2 separate regions of the Homo sapiens genome follow, and region 1 is linked to region 2. Evidence: fine-mapped expression QTL. A gene starts in region 2. The other region holds a variant in brackets. All regions are shown on one strand. Distances are between the middles of the regions. Region 1 has its middle 23 kb from the start of PWWP2A. Region 2 holds the start of PWWP2A (PWWP domain containing 2A).

The links. PIP is the estimated chance that this variant, and not a neighbour inherited with it, causes the effect. A credible set is the group of variants that fine-mapping cannot tell apart.
Region 1: its variant is the best candidate, but not a certain one, in a credible set for the expression of PWWP2A in testis (GTEx, PIP 0.82).

What each region holds. Positions count from the first base shown.
Region 1 is chr5:160,139,557-160,144,931 of GRCh38, reverse strand. No RefSeq gene overlaps it. Among named protein-coding and RNA genes, the nearest start is that of PWWP2A, 23 kb to the right of the region's middle. The variant C/T (reference allele first, on the strand shown) is at 2,507.
Region 2 is chr5:160,116,422-160,121,796 of GRCh38, reverse strand. PWWP2A (PWWP domain containing 2A) reads left to right here and starts at 2,347. Exons shown (of 2, transcript NM_001130864.2): 1 at 2,347-2,992. The coding sequence starts at 2,409. RefSeq lists silencers at 2,222-2,271, 2,432-2,531, 2,632-2,811, 2,932-3,351 and an enhancer at 2,296-2,795.

The DNA of each region.
Region 1 (5,375 bases), 23 kb before region 2:
TGGTAGGCGCCTGTAATCCCACCTACTGGGGAGACTGAGGCAGGAGAATCGCTTGAACCTGGAAGGTGGAGGTTGCAGTGAGCAGAGATCATGCCACTGCACTCCAGCCTGGGCAACAAGAGTGAAATTCCATCTCAAAAAAAAAAAAACAAAAAACAAAAGTAAAAAAATAGCAGACGGTGAGGATGCAGAGAAAAGGGAGCAGTTTTACAATGTTGATGGGAATGTAGATTAGTACAACCTCTATGAGACACAGTATGGAGATTTCTTAAAGAACTAAAACAGGCCGGGCGCAGTGGCTCATGCCAGTAATCCCAACACTTTGAGAAGCCGAGGCGGGTGGATCACCTGCGGTCAGGAGTTTGAGACCAGCCTGACCAACATGGTGAAACCCTGTCTCTACTAAATACAAAAAATTAGCCAGGCATGGTGGCACATGCTTGTAATCCCAGCTACTTGGAAGCCTGAGGCAGGAGAATCATTTGAACCCGGGAGGCAGAAGTTGCAGCAAGCTGAGATTGTGCCATTGCATTCCAGCCTGGGAAACTAGAGCAAAATTTCATCTCAAAAAAAACCAACTACCATTCACCCACCAATCCCACTACTGGTTATCTACCCAAAGGAAAAGAAATCATCTTATCCAAAGGGCACCTGTACTCGTACATTTATTGCAGCACTCTTTTCAGTAGCAAACTCATGGAATCAACCTGACTGTCAATGATAGATTAAATTTTAAAAATATGGTACATACACACCATGGACTACTACACATCCATAAAAGAAAAAAATGAAATCATATCCTTTGCAGCAGCATGGATGCAACTGAAGCCCATTACCCTAAGCAAATTAACTCAGGAACAGAAAACCAATTAGGTAACAAAAAGTTAAACAAAAGGTACACGGGGACATAAAGGTAGAAACAACAGACACTGGGGACTCCAAAAGAGCGGAGGGAGGGAGAAAAGCAAGGGATGAAAAGCTTCCTGCGAGGGACGATGTTCACTCTTGGTAATGGGTTCATTAGAAGCTCAAACCTCAGATTTATAACATATACCCATGTAAGAAACCTGCCCATATACCCTCTGAATCTATAATTTTTTTAAAAGTTGTCATTTGAAGAATAATTTTTTTTTTTTTGAGATGGAGTTTTGCTCTTGTCATCCAGGCTGGAGTGCAATGGTGAGATCTCAGCTCACTACAACCTCTGCCTCCCGGGTTCAAGTGATTCTCCGGCTTTAGCCTCCCGAGTAGCTGGGATTACAGGCAGGCACCACCACGCCTGGCTAATTTTGTATTTTCAGTAGAGATGGGGTTGCTCCATGCTGGTCAGGCTGGTCTCGAACCCCCGACCTCAGGTGATCCGCCCGCCTTGACCTCCCAAAGTGCTGGGATTATAGGCGTGAGCCACGGCGCCCGGCCTGAAGAATAAATTTTTTAAAAGAAGAAAAAAAAAAAAATTAAGTGACCACTTCGTCTTTCTATGCCTTGGGTTCTTCATCTGTGAAATGAAGATTGGACTGTTGTAACAATTAAGTGAGATAATACATATGAACTGCTCAGCACAGTCACTGGTGCATAGAAGAAGGTACACAAAGATTAGGTATTACTGATTGAGTGCCTTCTATATCGTACGCATGGGGCTTGCATTTAGAGATGAGCAAAACAAGATGTGCTCCTTGTTCTCTTGTCTAGTTAAGAAGGAAACAAGAAGTAAATAATCACACACAAATAGAGAAAGCTGGCTGGGTGCGGTGGCTCACACCTGTAATCCCAGCACTTTGGGACGCCAAGGCGGGCGGATCACGAGGTCAGGAGATCAAGACCATTCTGGCTAACACACTGAAACCCCGTCTCTACTAAAAATACAAAACATTAGCCGGGCGTGGTGGCGGGCGCCTGTAGTCGCAGCTACTCAGGAGGCTGAGGCAGAATGGCGTGAACCCAGGAGGTGGAGCTTGCAGTGAGCTGAGATCGAGCCACTGCACTCCAGCCTGGGTGACAGAGCTAGACTCTGTCTCAAAAAAACAAAACAAAAAAAACAAAAGACAAAAAAACAACTAGAGAAAGCTATGTGGGAGTACCTGCTTCCTATGGCTAGGTAAGGGAATTGTGATCTGAAAGTCGCTAATGAGGTGAGGAGAGGGCACAATGTTCCAGGCAGAGTGAAAGGCATCTTCCTTGTCTCTGAAGATATTAGATGATCTGGGTTTTTGAGACCCTTCCTCTCAGAATCTCTGAGCCTAGCCCGGGCGTGGTGGTTCATGCCTGTAATCCCAGCACTTTGGGAGGTGGAGGCGGGTGGATCACCTGAGGTCAGGAGTTAGAGACCAGCCTGGCTAACATGGTGAGACCCCCTCCCCTGCAACCCACCATCTCTACTAAAAATAAAAAAATTAGCCAGGTGTGGTAGTGGGCGCCTGTAATCCCAGCTACTTGGGAAGCTGAGGCCAGGGAACCCAAGAGGCAGAAGTTGCAGTGAGCTGCGATCTCACCATTGCACTCCAGC[C/T]TGGGTGACAAGAGTGAAACTCCATCTCAAAAAAAAAAAAAAAGAATTTCTAAGCCTACGTGCTGTTTTCCACTATTCCAAGGACAAAGTTTGCATCTTGAAAGCTAATCACTAAACCAAAGCCTTCACAAAGGCCATCAGTGGTTTTACCAAACAGACATTCTTCTCTAACAGCGACTAATATGATTAGTACTGGGTCCAGGCAGGTGAGCAGTTATAAGGGTGAGTTTTGGGTTAAGGCCTAACGGGGGCTAGGTCTTCAATTTTTGGTGGGCTTCAGGTCACCTGTGGAGACTTTTCAATACATCCCAGGGCCACATCCCTGGGAAATCTCAAGTTGGTGGCTTTAAGTAGGGCCTGGTAATCTTCATTTTTCTCATGCTTAGCCAGGGATGAAAACAATAGCATTGTCATTTTGAACTCTGGCTCTACCACCCTCCATCTGGGTGACCTTGAGCAAGTTATTTAACCTCTTTGAGACTCAATTTCTTTCTTTTTTTTGAAACAGAGTCTCACTCTGTCACCGGGGCTGGAGTGCAGTGGTGCGATCTTGGCTCACTGCAACCTCCACCTCCCAGGTTCAAATGACTCTCCTGCCTCAGCCTCCCCAGTATCTGGGATGACAGGTGCCTGCCACTATACCCAGCTAATTTTCTGTATTTTTAGCAGAGACAGAGTTTCACCATGTTGTCCAGGCTGGTCTCGATCTCTTGACCTCGTGATCCACCCGCCTCGGCCTCCCAAAGTGCTGGGATTACAGGCGTGAGCCACTGTGCTCGGCCTGAGACTCAATTTCTTAACGTATAGAATGAAAATAATAATATCTACCCATAGGGCTATCATGAAGATGGAATGATATTAATATACAAGAAATGCTTATTAATGTAGTCCTTGCCATGTAGTAAACATCCCGAACATGGTAGTTATTTTTGTTAGCTTTTTTGTATAACAATAGAATATTCTTTTGGTAAGATTGGCAATGGGAATGATTTATTATAGAAATCATAGAATACTATGTATCCATAAAAAATGATGAGTTCATGTCCTTTGTAGGGACATGGATGAAGCTGGAAACCATCATTCTCAGCAAACTATCACAAGGACAAAAAACCAAACACCGCATGTTCTCACTCATAGGTGGGAATTGAACAATGAGAACACATGGACACAGGAAGGGGAATATCACACACCGGGGCCTGTTGTGGGGTGGGGGGAGCGGGGAGGGATAGCATTAGGAGATATACCTAATGTTAAATGACGAGTTAATGGGTGCAGCACACCAACATGGCACATGTATACATATGTAACAAACCTGCACATTGTGCACATGTACCCTAAAACTTAAAGTATAATTTAAAAAAATAATTAAAAAAAAAAAGAAATCCTGACCCACGGCAGACTGCCAAATGTTTCTTATATCACATGCCAGGTAGAACGGAGATATTTTCAAATTAAATTCTCTTCTCAGGAAGTTTCCTTTGAACTACTGAGATGGAATTTCACTGTTGTTGCCCAGGCTGGAATACAATGGCATGATCTTGGCTCACTGTAACCTCTGCCTCCCAGGTTCAAGCAATGCTCCTGCCTCAGCCTCCCCGAGTAGCTGGTATTACAGGTGCCCACCACCACATCTGTTCGTGTTCTTAGTAGAGACGAGGTTTCACCATGTTGGCCAGGCTGGTCTCGAACTCCTGATCTCAGGTGATCCACCCACCTCAGCCTCCCAAAGTGCTGGGATTACAGGTGTGAGTCACTGCGCCCGGCCTATTTTTGTCATTTATAATCTCTAGCATTTCCTGGGGGAGAGCATGGTCTCTCCTTTTTGTTTCAGTTGGAATTTGGCTCCATCACTTACTAGTTATGACATGACCCTGAAGAAACTAGATCACAGTTCTAAGCTATGGAGTCTGACAAATCAGGTTTGCAGCCTTGGCTCAGCCATTACTGGCTGTATTACCTTGGGCAAGTCACTTCTCTTTTCTTTCTTTTTTTATTTTTTTGTTACAGAGTCACTCTGTTGCCCAGGCTAGAGTGCAATGGCGCAATCTTGGCTCACTGCAACCTCCGCCTCCCAGGTTCAAGCGATTCTCCTGCCTCAGCCTTCTGAGTAGCTGGGATTACAGGCATCTGCCACCACGCCCTGCTAATTATTGTATTTTTAGTAGAGATGGGGTTTCCATGTTGGCCAGGCTGGTCTCGAACTCCTGACCTCAAGTGATCCACCCGCCTTGGCCTCCCAAAGTGCTGGGATTACAGGTGTGAGCCACTGCGCCCAGCCCATGCCTGACTTCTAATGCCTAAGAGGAAACATGCTCAGTACTAATCTTCTCCACCTCCAAATTCAAATCCTGAAGTTGCAGATTTGGAAGATGGGGAATTAGGGAAGCTATGATCATGCTGCTGCATTCCAGCCTGGGCAATAGAGTGAGACACTGTTTCAAAAAAAAGAAATCTGGCATGATTTCTCTGAGGGCTGAGCTTCTGAAAGTGAGCCAGGAGGTGGACAAGTCAGAAATCAACTGAGGTCGTGTGTAATGGCTCATGCCTGTAATCCCAACACTTTGGGAGACTGAGGCAGAAGGATTGCTTGAACCCAAGAATTTGAGAGCAGCCTGAGCAACATACTGAGACCCCATCTCTTCGTTTGTTTGTTTTTGAGACAGTCTCACTCTGTTGCCCAGGCTGGAGTGCAGTGGCGCAATCTCGGCTCACTGCAACCTCTGCCTCCCAGGTTCAAGGGATTCTCCTGCCTCAGCCTCCTGAGTAGCTGGGACTACAGGCATGCGCCACCACGACTGGCTAAATTTTTCTATTTTTAGTAGAGATAGGGTTTCACCATGTTGGTCAGGCTGGTCTCCAAGTCCTGACC
Region 2 (5,375 bases):
CAGAATGAAATGGTGGCTTAGGACAATGACTTGGTATGCCACAATCTATTATGAAGCTGAAATGTAAATTACTCATTGCAGCATCTTGTAATGAATTACTACAAGAGGTAATCAGGTCCCAGGACCCGAACTATATTTTTCTCCCTGTGGGAGATTATACAATGTGAGACCTTAGGGTCTAGGCATTTCATAGACTCTATGTTGTGTTTAATTAGTTGATTATGGTGAACTGTAGACAAAATATTATGGTGAAAACCCTATAAGGCAGAATCTGTATCTGCTTACTGCAAGTATCTAGCCTGAAGGAGATAACTCTTTGATGAATGAATGATTGAGTGAAAGTCATGTACTTGGAAGGACCCAGGTTAGATAGGATCTGCTGCTAGCTAGCTGTATGACCCTTAAGATCTTATTATCTTTTTATTTTTATTTTTTTGATACGGAGTTTCACTCTTGTTGCCCAGAGTGGAGTGCAGTGGGCACATCTCGGCTCACTGCAACCTCCGCCTCCTGAGTTCAAGCAATTCTCTTGCCTCAGGTTTCCAAGTAGCTGGGATTACAGGCATGCGCCACCATGCTCAGCTAATTTTGTATTTTTAGTAGAGATGGGGTTTCACCATGTTGGTCAGGTTGTTCTCAAACTCCTGACCTCAGGTGGTCCGCCTGCCTCGGCCTCCCAAAGTGCTGGGATTACAGGCTTGAGCCACCGCGCTTGGCCCGCTTAGGATGTTTAACATGGCTAAGGCTTGGCTTCCTCATCTGTAAAAAAGGGAGAAGATTTAAGTCACAGGATTTTAAGTGAGAGTTTTGGGAAAATCTCTGGTACAAAATGAACACTAAGTACATTTGTTTCTTTCTGTATTTTTAAATGATATTCTGAAACTTCCCTGATTGGGATCTTCTACTGGCCTTTCCCCACGAGCCACTTGGTTTGAAATAGGCAGAGCATATGGTGATATTTGTTTATTGCTATTTTCAGTCTTTTCCATGTAAAACTGAAATTCTGACTATGCAATTTACCAGCCGAGTAACCTTGGGCACCCTCTTTGTGCCTCAAAATTTTAAGGATTGAGATGATATGCTATAGTGTTTGTATTAGTGCCTGGTACATGGTACTCAAAAGACACTAGCTGTAATTATTCTTCAGGACTTTATTTTTTTTACTTTCATTGCTAGCAGTTTTTCTACCCTCTCTCCTGCAGGCATTCTCCCAGAAAAAAGGCTGACTCTGTGGTGCCATTTGAGAGAAATAGGTTCAGTAGATTCTTCCAGAGATGACAAACGAAAAGACTTGATGTGGAAGTAAGAGAAGTAGGGGCGTCAGGACACTGAAGTGAGAGATCTTTTGTTCTCGTGGCATTGGAGAAGCCAGGAAAGAAAAAGGCTTTAGCAGGGACCAGGTGCGTCCACTTTGCAAGTGGATTTGGAGAGAACAAGCAGTGTTCACATATCAGTCCAGCAATGTCTCAAGACTCCTTCCTGGAACAGTCATCAGTTTAATCCAGTGAGGATGGTGTCTCTCTTCTTTCATGAGCATTTTCCTATTTCTGAAATATTAATAAATAGGTGCTTTGTTCCTAGGAAGTGGAGAGAAGTCAAGGAAAATACTCATCATACTCCTAGAAGTCAAGGAAAATACTCCTCGTACTCCTCATGGCCGCTGGAGCCCGCTGCTATGAGGTTATGGAGAACGTCTTGAACATTCCATTCCCCAGCACCTAGTGCAGTGACTAGCATAGTAGGCACTCAAAAAGTGTCTGTAGGATTGTATTTCAAACTTTAGTTGTCTTTCCCAAAGAAGCCTGTCGTGCCCACACGCGGCCGCAAGAAGTCCGCGCCTAGAAATAACATTTATTCTAAGGATCTCTGCGCAGAGATTCTTGGGAAGCGGTTCCCCTCCCGCATTCCCTTGTTACTCCTCCCCTCGGCCGCCTTTGAAAGAAGTGGCACGCCACATGATTCCATCCTTTCTCCCACCTCCAAAGACCTGGCTGATAATGGGCAGGAGCGTAGGCCAACCATAAAACTTTATTTCCTCTTCCAGCCAATAGCAAGAGGCGATGAGTATATGGCTCCTCTTTTGTGACTTCCCCCGCCCCCTTTGATTCCGCCCCCTATTCCTCCACTCAGATTCCACACTTGACAACACATCTGGCCAATGAGAAGTTCCTACTCTGCGTGGGAAGGATGGACTGACTAGATGATAGACGTCCATCCCTGGCCAATGGAATATCAAAAGTGCGGGAGGGGTGTAGAATGCAACCAATGGCGAGGTGCCAGAAACGAGCATCAGGGAAAGGGCGGGACGAAAGTGTTCGCGGGAGGGAGGGGAAGGCCCAGGGAACCAAGCAGCGCTGTCGCCGCCGCCGCTGCAGCCGGAGTTGGAGGAGGGAGAAGCTAGGAAGAAAATGGCGGCCGTGGCTGCAGAGGCGGCAGCGACTGCAGCGTCCCCCGGGGAGGGGGGCGCCGGCGAGGCCGAGCCGGAGATGGAGCCCATCCCCGGCAGTGAGGCCGGCACTGACCCCCTCCCGGTCACGGCCACTGAAGCGTCTGTGCCGGATGGCGAGACTGACGGGCAGCAATCCGCTCCTCAGGCCGACGAGCCGCCGCTCCCGCCGCCACCGCCGCCGCCGGGGGAGCTCGCCCGCAGCCCAGAGGCGGTGGGGCCGGAGCTGGAGGCTGAGGAGAAACTGTCCGTTCGGGTGGCGGAGTCGGCGGCAGCCGCGCCTCAGGGAGGGCCGGAACTTCCACCTTCTCCTGCATCGCCGCCGGAGCAGCCCCCGGCTCCCGAGGAGCGCGAGGAGCCGCCGCTGCCTCAGCCCGTAGCCCCGGCGCTCGTGCCGCCGGCGGGCGGGGACTCCACGGTGTCGCAACTGATCCCGGGCTCGGAGGTGCGGGTCACGCTGGACCACATCATTGAGGACGCGCTTGTCGTGTCGTTCCGCTTCGGGGAGAAGCTCTTCTCCGGGGTCCTCATGGATCTGTCCAAAAGGTACCGCGCCCGCCCCCAGCACCCTCCGGTCCGCTGGGTCCCCAGGGAGGGAGTGAGCCCGGGCGGCCCCCTCTCCCCGAGCCCTCGCTTCCCCGCTGCCCGGGGCCCCGCCCTCTGGTCCTGCGCGGCGCGTGGCGCGCGCTCCGAGTGGGGCAGGCGCGCGAGACCGGGAGAGGGCGGTCCCGGCCCCAGGTGGGCGCCTGCGGGGCAGGTGTGCCACCAGGTGGGAGGGTGCAGGTGCAGATGGGCTCACAGGTCTCACCCCTCACGCCTGGTCTTCTTCTGCGACTTGGCCTGGAGTCACCGTCACTGGGCGGGTGGGTTAATGCAAGATGCAGATGGATTTTTGCAGAGAACGGAGTGTTGGACGGGGGGACGGGGGGGCGGGGGGCATTGCTTGCGAGGAGGCACTTGTCTGTCCTCTAACGTTTAACTTTAGCGGGATTGGAGAAAGGGGTGTGTACATTGGGGTTCCCAAAAGGTTACCTGTCACTCCTTACAGGGGGAAGAGCATTTGTTAAAATGAACCTTTTAACTGTAATTCTTACGGTTAGAAGTCATTCCCGTTAGGTTAACCATTCAACAGAGAAGCATATTTTGCTAATTTTAATGATAGTTTAAGAAAAGTTTAAAGAAGAGATTGGAGATTTTTAAAAAATCCTTTAATGTCAAGGTGGTGTAGCATAAAAATGTTCAAGTAACTTCTAACACCTGGGATTCAGTTTATGTATTAAGGACAAGAAGGTTGAGTTCATCTACAAATTTGGCTTAACCACATTTTCATTTTTTGATTTAAAATGTTTTTGGGCTCTGCTTTCAACAGGGGAAGAGAACCTGTTCTAAGTCTGGAGTTAACCTTTTTATTCTCTTCTTTTGCAGATATGAAGTGCAGAGACTCCCATTCACGGCTTTCCATTCTGTTTCCTGCAACAGCACACGCTCTGATCGTATCTCACCTGTTTGCAATGGCTTATTAGTATGTTTTACTCTTAAACTTGCTTGCTCTCCCATCAAGACCCAGGAATCCTTCTTTCCCATTTGGGGAAAAAAGCCATTTAAAATTTCATATTGAAGTATGGTGTTTGAGGGGAAAGATGAGAGCAGTTATTCTGTATTATTTAATCTCAAATATCTTTTTTTTTTTTTTTGAGACGGAGTCTCACTCTGTCACCCAGGCTGGAGTGCAGTGGCGCCATATCGTCTCACTGCAACCTCCGCCTCCTGGGTTCAAGCGATTCTCCCGCCTCAGCCTCCCAAGTAGCTGGGACTACAGGCGTGCGCCACCATGCTGGTCTAATTTTTGTATTTTTTAACTAGAGCCGGGATTTCACCATGTTGGCCAGGCTGGTCTTGAAATCCTGACCTCAGGTTATCCACCCGCCTCAGCCTCCCAAAGGGCTGGGATTACAGGCATGAGCCGCCGTGCCCGGCCTCAAGTATCTTTTTTAAAAATAATTTTGGATTAGGGCATTTGCACTTCTGTTTATGTTTGTTTGTTTACTTATTTAATAGAGACAGGGTCTTGCTGTGCTGCCTAGGCTGGTCTCAGACTCCTGGGCTCAAGCGATCCTACTGCCTTGGCCTTCCAAAGTGCTGAAATTACAGGCGTGAGCCACTGTGCCCGGCCTGCACTCCTGTTTTCATAATTAGAAAGCAGAATAAGGTGAGTGTGCTTTCTATTGATGTATTTTATTTATTTATTTATTTATTTATTTTTGAGACAGAGTTTCGCTCTTGTTGTCCAGGCTGCAGTGGTACAATCTCTGCTCACTGCACCCTCCACCTCCCTGGTTCAAGTGATTCTCCTACCTCAGCCTCCCAAGTAGCTGGGATTACAGGCATGTGCCACCACGCCTGGCTAATTTTGTATTTTTAGTAGAGATGGGGTTTCACCATGTTGGTCAGGTTGGTCTCAAACTCCTGACCTCAGGTGATCCACCCACCTTGGCCTCCCAAAGTGCTGAGATTACAGGCATGAGCCACCTCGCCCGGCCTCTACTGATGTATATAATAGTAAGAGACACTCTGGTGTGTATGCTGTTGAATGAAACAGAAGAGATGGCCAGTGATTGTGTGAGAATCTGGATTTCAAATCTGCAAAAGGAAGGTGCAGAAGGTAAGTTGTTTTTGGAAATGGAATGGATAAGTGCTCATTGTGTTAGTGCTTTATTTTTAAAAAATTTTCTTTAGTGGAGAATTGCTATTGAGTTTTGGTCTCATGCTATCAGTGCTTAGAAACAGCAATTTCTTTTGTTGGAGGAGCTATTCCTAATATGAACCTTTTCCATTTGAATATTCTGAAGTGAAAGGATCCTATTACTATTATTTATTTATTTATTTATTTTTTCCAAGACGGAGTCTTGCTCTGCCGCACAGGCTGGAG